Regions from separate parts of the Homo sapiens genome. Here region 1 is linked to region 2. Evidence: fine-mapped expression QTL. A gene starts in region 2. The other region holds a variant in brackets. All regions are shown on one strand. Distances are from middle to middle. Region 1 has its middle 25 kb from the start of CHP2. Region 2 holds the start of CHP2 (calcineurin like EF-hand protein 2).

Region 1 (5,230 bases), 25 kb before region 2:
AACCAATACTAGCATAATAACATTGGGAGAAGGGAAAAGTGGTTTTTGTCGATGGAAGGGGAAAGAAAATCTATGGCGGGGGGGTGTTGATGACAGATGGGGGAATTTGGCAGGCAAGGACTGGGGATGGATGTACTGACAATGTGAGAAGTGAGAGCGTGGTAGGAGATGCTGTGGTCCAGTAATTGTGTAGGTGGGTGAAAATACAATAGCAGGAGCAGTTCCCGGTTAGAAGGTTTAAGAGGCTCCTCCAGTGACCAATGGTCAGGTAAAGATGGGCAGGAAAAACCCAGCGAAGGGAGGGGGGTGATATTTGGGGTCTCACTGGCCCCAGGCTAGGGAGGCACTTTTGTTGTCAACTCACTTGGGGCTGCCTTCCCCAAGAATCAGTTGGGTCACCAGTGGTCTTAGCTACTCAGGAGGCTGAGGTGGGAGGATTGTTTGAGCCCGGAAGTTCAAGACCAGCCTGGGCAACATACTGAGACCTCCATCTCTAAATAAATAGATAACCTTAAAAAAAAAAAAAAAAAGAGTCAGTGGGGAACAAAGAGGAAACTCCCCCCCATCTACCCACCCATACCCCCAAGGCAAGACACAGAGGGCCAGAGCAGAAAACAGAGTTGGGGCCAGGCATGGTGGCTCACGCCTGTAATCCCTGCACTTTGGAGGGCCAAGACGGGCAGATTCACCTGAGCTCAGGAGTTCAAGACCAGCCTGGACAACATGGCAAAACCCCATCTCTACTAAAAAATTAGTCAGGCATGGTGGTGTGCACCTGTAGTCCCAGCTATTTAGGAGGGTGAGGCAGGAGAATTGCTTGAGCCCAGGAGGCAGAGATTGCAGTGAGCCAAGATTATGCCACTGCACTCCAGCCTGGATGGCAGAGGAAGACCCTGTCTCAAAAAAAAGAAAAAAAGAAAAGACAAAGAAAACAGAGTTGGGATGAACATAACAGCACAGAGTTAATGTAGTCAGACTGGGTTGCAATTTATTTAACATCAGAAATCTACAAAGTGCCCTTTTCATCATGTCCTAACAAGCATTGATTGTGTCTTTTGTTTGTTTTTTAGTCTTTGCTAATCTGATTGGCGAAAAGGGCTTTATTGTGACACAGGGGATGTTCTATCTAAATTGCTTGCTTACTCAAACCTTTGAGGGTGACACAGTGATTTTCATCTTTCCAGTCCCAGCATGTCACTTGACCTAGAATTAATGGATAAAAGTGCCATAGCATGGCTGTTTTTATTTGTATAAAAATGTTACAAAGAAAGAGTTGGCTGGGCAGGCATGGTGGTTCATGCCTGCAAACCCACCCTTTGGGAGGCTGAGGCAGGAGGATCACTTGAGCCCAGGAGTTCAAAACCAGCCTGGGCAACATAGTAAGACCTCGTATCTAGAAATAATTTTTTAAATTAGCCTGTATGGTGGCTTGCACCTGTAGTTCCACCTACTTGGGAGGCTGAGGTGAAAGGCTCACCTGAACCCAGGAGGTCAAGGATTCAGTGAGCCATGTTCGTGCCACTGCACTCCAGCCTAGGTGACAGAGGGAGACTCTGTCTCAAAAAAAAAAAAAAAAAAGAGTCAAGCATTTTCCTCAACAGTTTAAGCACAAGGAAAGCTTGGTACTTTGTGGCTTACAATAATGTCAATCCAGGGATGAGATAATTGGTGGCTGGCTCTTGTCATCACGAAAGGTTTACTCAGGCTATTTCATTAATGTTGCAACTGAAACCCTGCATTTGATATAACTCAATCATCGGACCACTTAGAGCACTGTGTAGAAGTTATAATATAAGGTAGTCAGTTTTTAGTCTGAGATGTCTCCAACTAGGAGTCATCTCTATACCTCTAAGAAGGGTCGGATAAAATAAGTACAAAAAGGAGAGGATAGTGTTTCACAGTCAGATGCCTACGGTCAGCGAGCCAAATCTGCCTGCAGCTGTATAAACAAAAGTTTTATTGGAACACAGCCAGGTTCATTCACTTTTATTTTGTCTATGGCAGCTTTTGCCCTACAATGGTAAAGTTCGATAGCTGAAACACTAGCTTTATAGCTCTCAAAGTCAAAACTATTTACTATCTGCTTTTTTTTTTATTTTTTGAGATGGAGTTTTGTTCTTGTTGCCCAGGCTGGAGTGCAATGGCGTGATCTCGGCTCACTGCAACCTCTGCCTCCCGGGTTCAAGCGATTCTCCTGCCTCAGCCTCCTCAAGTAGCTGGGATTACAGGCATGTGCTACCATGCCTGGCTAATTTTGTTTTTTTTTTTTTTTTTTTTTTTTTTTTTTAGAGACAGGGCTTCACCATGTTGGTCAGGCTGGTCTCGAACTCCTGACCTGAGGTGATCCACCCACCCCAGCCTCCCAACATGCTGGGATTACAAATATGAGCCTCCACAGCCAGCCTACTATCTGCTCTTTCACAGGTAAAGCTTGCCCGCCTTGTTCTAGACCCTACCCCTCTCCAGAAATGGTGTGTGGAACCAACCCAACTTGAGGAAGGTTTACATCAACGGATACAGAGGAGCACAGAAAGGTAGGGGGTCATTTGATCCTCACAGCAACTCTGTGAGGTAGGTACTGTTAT[C/TATC]TTTACAGATGGGGAAACTGAGGCACAGAGCAGTTAAACAAATTTCCCAGAGTCACATAACCAATGATTGTTGGAACTGAGATTTGAACCCAGGTAGTCTGCTTCTAGAGTTTGCACACTTAACTGCCACCAATAATGGCACCTAGAAGTTTTCAGGAGTGGGGGAAAGAAACATAATAGGCACATACAAAAACTAATACTCTTCAAGAGCATCATAAGAAGCTAGAAGAAAAATGAAGCAATACTTTTCCTTTTTTTTTTTTGAGAGAAAGGCTATTTTCAACCTAAAATTCTAGACCCTGACACCTTACCATCAAGCGTAATGGCAGAATAAAGACATTATAAATCATGCAAGCTCTCAAATATTTTTCACCAATGCACTCTTTTTTTTTTTTTTTTTTTTTTTTTCATGGAGTCTTGCTCTGTCACCCAGGCTGGAGTGCAGTGGAGCAATCATCTCAGCTCACTGCAACCTCTACCTCCCAGGTTCAAGCAATTCTCCTGCCTCAGCCTCCTGTGTAGCTGGGATTACAGGCACCTGCCAACATGCCCAGCTAATTTTTGTATTTTTAATAGAGACGGGGTTTCACCATGTTGGCCAGGTTGGTCTTGAACTCCTGATCTCAAATGATCCACCCACCTCAGCCTCCCAAAGTGCTGGAATTACAAATGCGAGCCACCACACCTGACCACCAATGCACTCTTTCTTAGGAGGTTACTAGGTAGTCTGCTCTATCAAAATGAGAAATTAAAGCTATAAAGAGGAAAACAGGGGGTCCAGGAAGCAGTGGAAGCAGGAAAAAGGAAAGGGAATCCCTAGGATGAGAGTAAAAAGTGGCCCAGAATGTACAGCAGGTCTGTTCACACTGAAGCAATAAGTTGGGAAGCCAATGACAAACCCACAGCCAATATCATACTGAATGGGCAAAAACTGGAAGCATTCCCTTTGAAAACTGGCACAAGACAGGGATGCCCTCTCTCACCACTCCTATTCCACATAGTCTTGGAAGTTCTGGCCAGGGCAATCGGGCAGGAGAAAGAAATAAAGGGCATTCAATTAGGAAAAGAGGAAGTCAAATTGTCCCTGTTTGCAAATGACATGATTGTATATCTAGAAAACCCCATCGTCTCAGCCCGAAATCTCCTTAAGCTGATAAGCAAATTCAGCAAAGTCTCAGGATATAAAATCAATGTGCAAAAATCACAAGCATTCTTATACACCAATAACAGACAAACAGAGAGCCAAATCATGAGTGAACTCCCATTCACAATTGCTTCAAAGAGAATAAAATACCTAGGAATCCAACTTAAAAGGGATGTGAAGGACCTCTTCAAGGAGAACTACAAACCATTGCTCAATGAAATAAAAGAGGACACAAAAAAATGGAAGAACATTCCATGCTCATGGATATGAAGAATCAATATTGTGAAAATGGCCATACTGCCCAAGGTAATTTATAGATTCAACGCCATCCCCATCAAGCTACCAATGACTTTCTTCACAGAATTGGAAAAAACTACTTTAAAGTTCATATGGAACCAAAAAAGAGCCTGCATTGCCAAGTCAATCCTAAGCCAAAAGAACAAAGCTGGAGGCATCATGCTACCTGACTTCAAACTATACTACAAGGCTACAGTAACCAAAACAGCATGGTACTGGTACCAAAACAGAGATATAGACCAATGGAACAGAACAGAGCCCTCAGAAATAATACCACACATCTACAACTATCTGATCTTTGACAAACCTGACAAAAACAAGCAATGGGGAAAGGATTCCCTATTTAACAAATGGTGCTGGGAAAACTGGCTAGCCATATGTAGAAAGCTGAAACTGGATCCCTTCCTTACACCTTATACAAAAATTAATTCAAGATGGATTAAAGACTGACATGTTAGACCTAAAACCATAAAAACCCTAGAAGAAAACCTAGGCAATATCATTCAGGACATAGGCATGGGCAAGGACTTCATGTCTAAAACACCAAAAGCAATGGCAACAAAAGCCAAAATTGACAAATGGGATCTAATTAAACTAAAGAGCTTCTGCACGGCAAAAGAAACTACCATCAGAGTGAACAGGCAACCTACAGAATGGGAGAAAATTTTTTCAATCTACTCATCTGACAAAGAGCTAATATCCAGAACCTACAAAGAACTCAAACAAATTTACAAGAAAAAAAACAAACAACCCCATCAAAAAGTGGGCGAAGGATGAACAGACACTTCTCAAAAGAAGACATTTATGCAGCCAACAGACACATGAAGAAATGCTCATCAGGACTGGCCATCAGAGAAATGCAAATCAAAACCACAATGAGATATCATCTCACACCAGTTAGAATGGTGATCATTAAAAAGTCAGGAAACAACAGGTGCTGGAGAGGATGTGGAGAAATAGGAACACTTTTACACTGTTGGTGGGACTGTAAACTAGTTCAAACATTGTGGAAGTCAGTGTGGCGATTCCTCAGGGATCTAGAACTAGAAATACCATTTGACCCAGCCATCCCATTACTGGGTATATACCCAAAGGAATATAAATCATGCTGCTATAAAGACACATGCACATGTATGTTTATTGCAGCACTACTCACAATAGCAAAGACTTGGAACCAACCCAAATGTCCAACAATGATATACTG
Region 2 (5,230 bases):
TCACCTGTACCCCAACCATCAGACGGAGAACCTGAGAGATGAGTGAAGAGGCAGCCATAAGGAGGGGGCACGAAGGCTGCAACTCCCCATCTCCTAAACCTTGCCCACCTCATCCCAAAAGTTATTGCTAATTTTATAATCCATCCTTCATCCATTTTTCACCATATCCCCCAATAATTTTCCCTACTGCTTCAACAACCAATCTCCTATCTCTCCCTCACCATCCTGCACTACCCTCAAAATATGCTCAAACTCATTACCCAACTTTATCACCCAACCTCCATCCATCCTCCACACCATTCTCCACCTTAGCCACTAAGGGTTTCTAATTCCATCCTCATTCCATCACATCTGTTCCAGAGTTTCTCAATCTTGGCACTGTTGACATTTGGAGCCAGGTAACTCCTTGTTGGAAGAGGCTCTCCTGGGTATTGCATGATATATAGCCACATTCCTGACCTCTACCCACTAGATGCCAGTAGCACACTCTCTCCCCCATTGTGACAACAAAAAGCATCTCCAGATATTGCCAGATATTCACTCAGGGAGCAAAATCACCCCCAGTTGAGAATCACTGATCTATTCCCAACCTCATAGTCAACTGCTCCCCACTCCGACTCCCAACAAACCCACACTCTAACTGCACCCATTCCCATTTCCCAACCAATACCCCAATTATCTGCGCCCCAGTTCCCCAATCATCCCACCCCATCTCTCACACCATTGCATTTAACCATCCCATCCTTCACACATCACATCTCTTGCTCTCGCTTTCTGCCAACCTGCAGCATCTCATGCCTGGAGATCTTCCCATCGCGATCCAGGTCATAGAGCTGAAATGCATCTGGGGAGAGGGTGGGAGGGGGAAAGGAAGGTAGGTCTTCCCTGGCTCTCTTCCAGCAGCCACCTTCCTTCCCCCCACCTTGGAGGAGGGGGGAGGTTGTCAATGCCCTCAGGAAGGGAGTGGGAGATCCCTGGAGCCTGTCCCTGGTGTGGGTACATCTGCATTCTCACTTGTGCAGGTCCTCACAAACTCACAGTGAAGTTTGTTCCTTCTGCTGTTGAGAGGTTCAGGTTTCTTGGGGTCTTGGGTTTCTGTGTCCTCATCTTCTACAGGGCGAAAATGAGCCAAGACCCTGACAAAGCCTGGGAAATCCACTCGCTGGCTCCTGGGGAGACGGGACAGAATGGAAAGAGGTGGTGGTCACCTTGGCCATCACTTTGCCTCCGTCTCTAACCTCCCCTCCCACCCACTCACACACCGGTTTTCCCGCCTTCACCTCCCCACGCCCAGCAAGCCTCACCCATCGGGGAAGAAGCTTTCTATAATTCGGTCTCCCAGGGGGTTCACGGCGAGCGCCCCTATCTGCTGGAGATCCATGCGGCTGCAAAGCCAAATTTCAAAGAGGGTAAGGCAGAGATGCCAGACGGAGGGTCAAAGAGGGACATGGAGTCAGAGAGACAGAGGCCAGAAGTTATGAGGCCGGCTCCCCCTCACCTCAGGTAGCCCTTCTTATTCCTGTCCAGTGCCCGGAACCGGTGGTGCAGGCGGAGCAGGCTGGCTTGGGAGACTGCGGGAAGGAGAGTGGGGTGGGGGTGTGTGACTCTGCAGGGCCAGCTCCAGAAACCCGCCCCAACAGGCCAGGAAGATGGGCCAGAACAGCGGGGGCTGGCTGGAAGGGGCGATCATCCCGGGGAATCAGGGGTTGAGCTGGCCGGGGCGGAGGGAGAGTGACACGACCCCGCGAAGATCCAGGTTCAAGACCCGGGCGGCTCGCAACCTCCCGAAAACCAAAGAACCAAAGCCATCCCTTCCAACCGCCGTCAGCTCTGCCTTCAGCTTCGAGCCGGGCTGGAGGACACCTGGGTGCCTGGATTCCTCTGGACTCCGACCCCGTGAACCCGGATCCTCCCCAGACTTGGAGGCTGGGACCCCTAGGTTAACCCGCCCCTAACCCAGCGATCCCAGGCACAGGGGCCTTGGTCTTCCAGCTCCGGGGAGCCCCGGACCCCAGACTTGTAAGTTCGTCCATCCTTCAACCCAACCCCTTCCCTAGCCCCAGACGCCTGGGTTCGCCCCGTCCCCTCCGCAGCCGCCGACGCGGGCGCACTCACAGCCGGTCTCTCGCCGAATACTGTCCCCGTCGGGAATGACCGCGGCGTGGGAGCTGCGCGACCCCATGGCCGAGCTGGAGGCGGAAGGGCCGGAGCAGCCACCCGGACCCACGCGTTCTCTCCTCCCGCCGGAGAGGCGTGGCCGCCCCAGTGGCCCCAGGGGGACGAAGGCCACAAGCCTGGCGCGCGGCCAAGCTCCAGAACCCCGGCGTGCCTCTCCTCCCACCCGCGACCCGGGCGAATGGAAAACAATGTGCAGGGTGGCGGGTCAGAGGGAGGCTGCGAACAACGGGCTGTTTCAGCTCCGAGATTTTGCGATCCGCACGGGAGAGGCTGGTCGAGTCCCAGGCCCCGCGTTTCCACGCCTCCCCCGGGGCCGGTTCCCACGGTGCGCCCTGACACCTGAGCCACCTCCTCCTTCGCGGGCCCCGGGCGCTCCCAACCCCAGGGCGCTCCCCGGCGTCGACGCTGAGGAAGCCTGGGAGACCTGACCTCCTCTGTAGAGACCACGCCCTGCTGGAAGGCGGGTGGCCTATGGGGAGGGAATCCTGGGGGGAGGGGGGAAGAGGCATCGAAGAACTCCCAAAGACGGGGAAGTGGGGAGGGGCGGCGAGATGAAGGGTGTGCGTTAGGTTAAGTGGAAAGAGCACTGGTTTGGGAGTCCTTGTTGGAATCCCAGCCGTGCCCGTGACTCTGGGAAAGTCAGTAAATCTTGGTTTCATCCCTTTTGTTCGGTTCACATTGCCTTATTGTTGTTTAATTGAGCCAATGCTTAAAATTCAGGAGATTTAACCCAAAATCCACATTCTTGGCTTTTCCTGAGAAATCAGAAGTTCTATCACCACCAGGCCCAGAGCTGTCTTCTGGCCACAGTCCCTCCAAGCCCAATTCACTCCCTTAGGTACCTACTGATCCCGTAGAGCTCCAGACTGGGAATGACTTAGTCCTCTGAACAGCCCTCCAGAGCCATGGGACTCCTTGGCCCAAGAGAGGGTTACAGACATCACTGGGACTAGGCTTAAAGCAAGAATGACAACAAGGGCTCTTGTTTACCACGCTTTGCTAAGCACTTTACGTGCATCCGTTCACACATTCCTTGTAGGCCCTGCTGGGCTGCTTTCTTCTAATTTTACGTGGTGGAGGCTGCCGGGGGCAAGTTGTGAACTAATTATGTAAAGCGTGCATTCTCAGTGCGGTCTCTATCTCACCCCAACGGGGCAAAAAATAAAACATATTTTTTATGTACAAAGCACAGCATACATACAGCACATAAATAGATATACAGTATAGCTGTGATATTGAAATTTCAGGGCAGACGTGGAGGCTCATGCCTGTAATCCCAGCACTTTGGGAGGTAGAGGCAGGAGGATTGCTTGAGCCCAGGAGCTCAAGACCAGCCTAGGCAACATAGTGAGACCCCATCTCTACAAAAGAATACAAAAAAAAAAAATTAACCAGGTGTCGTGGCACATGCCTGTAGTCTCAGCTACTTGGGAGTCTGAGACAGGAGGATCACTTGAGCCCAGGAGGTTGAGGCTGCAGGGAGCCATGATCACGCCATTACACTCCAGCCTGGGTGACAGAGTGAGACCCTGTCTTGAAAAGAAAAGAGGCCGGGCGCGGTGGCTTATGCCTGTAATCCCAGCACTTTGGGAGGTCGAGACGGGCGGATCACCTGAGGTCAGGAGTTTGAGACCAGACTGACCAACATGGAGAAACCCAGTCTCTACTAAAAATACAAAATTAGCTGGGCGTGGTGGTGCATGCCTGTAATTCCAGCTACTCGGGAGGCTGAGGCAGGAGAATCGCTTGAACCCGGGAGGTGGAGATTGAGGTGAGCCTAGATCGCGCCATTGCACACCATCTTGGGCAAAAAGATCGAAACTTGGTCTCAAAAAAAAAAAAAGAAAGAAAATAAAATTTCATGGGGTAGGGGTGAGGGTGGGGAAATTAAAAAGACTAGGGGAGGCGTTGATAATGAAAAAAAAACAGGTCGAGAAACTCATTTGTCAAGGGACAAACACTAGAAGTGTCCACTTTTGAAAGTATCTTTAAACCGTTTCCCCCATCATAATTGCACATACATACACAAATTTCCCAGGGGGGAAAACATGCAAGCAGTTCATTGCAAGGGCTCAAGTTCATATCCACCCTGGAGAGAGAGAAGCTGAAGAAACAGTCTATCCTCCAGCCCCAGGCAGAGGCCTGCATCAGATAAGTCTTGAAAATATTGATCTAAGAAGTGCTTGCTTCTTTCAGATACCCCCAAGGATTAAGCAACTGGCATAAGGAATGCTTGATTCTCTTTCAGACTCCCCCCAAAGACTAAGCATGCGGGAAACCACACTCCTCCCTAATGAAGCCCAGCAATCACTGCAACCCACAGCTGTGAGTCAGGCTGTGCATGTAGTTTGGGTTCAGTTCTGAACCCAGGAGGAGATGAGAGCCCTAAGAAGCTGTGATAAGCACCGCAGGCCAGCTTGGGATGCTGATCTTGGAAAGGGCTTCTCCAGCCTTAATATTGGAGTCAGTGCTACACCAAAGTAAATTAGGCCGGAGAGTAATTAGGAACTCCCATGCACACATCATACACAAGCTTTTAAGAGAGGGCTGGACCAGGCACAGTGGCTCACACCTATAATGCCAGCCCTTTGGGAGACTGAGGCGGGCAGACCATGAGGTCAGGAGATTGAGACTATCCTGGCTAACACAGTGAAACCCCGTCTCTACTAAAAATACAAAAAATTAGCTGGGTGTGGTGGCAGGCGCCTGTAATCCCAACTATTTGGGAGGCTGAGGCAGGAGAATCACTTGAACCTGGGAGGCAGGTGTGGCAGTGAGCCAAGATCACACCACTGCACTCCAGCCTGGGTAACAGAGCAAGACTCCATCTCAAAAAGAAAAAAAAAGAAAGAGAGAGAGAGCAGGCTATGCTAGAACTCATTTCTGTTTCATGTACACAAGTGAGACTTAAATCAACTTCACAGTTTTTTCAGGTCATTTAAGCGGGAAGATGCTTTGGGGAAAATTTTATCTGCAGAATCTGTTAGACTAGAGTCAGGAGGAATATTTGGTTTTTGCTTTTCAGCTATGTAAAAGTTGCTAGTCATTCTTT

What was found. PIP is the estimated chance that this variant, and not a neighbour inherited with it, causes the effect.
Region 1: its variant is the best candidate, but not a certain one, in a credible set for the expression of CHP2 in lung (TOPMed, PIP 0.50).

The regions. Positions count from the first base shown.
Region 1 is chr16:23,777,252-23,782,481 of GRCh38, reverse strand. No RefSeq gene overlaps it. Among named protein-coding and RNA genes, the nearest start is that of CHP2, 25 kb to the right of the region's middle. The variant C/TATC (reference allele first, on the strand shown) is at 2,586.
Region 2 is chr16:23,752,002-23,757,231 of GRCh38, reverse strand. It overlaps CHP2 (calcineurin like EF-hand protein 2), which reads right to left and starts at 2,206. Exons shown (of 7, transcript NM_022097.4): 1 at 2,116-2,206; 2 at 1,499-1,571; 3 at 1,305-1,385; 4 at 1,039-1,169; 5 at 783-844; 6 at 1-31. The coding sequence starts at 2,182. RefSeq lists an enhancer at 1,673-2,318.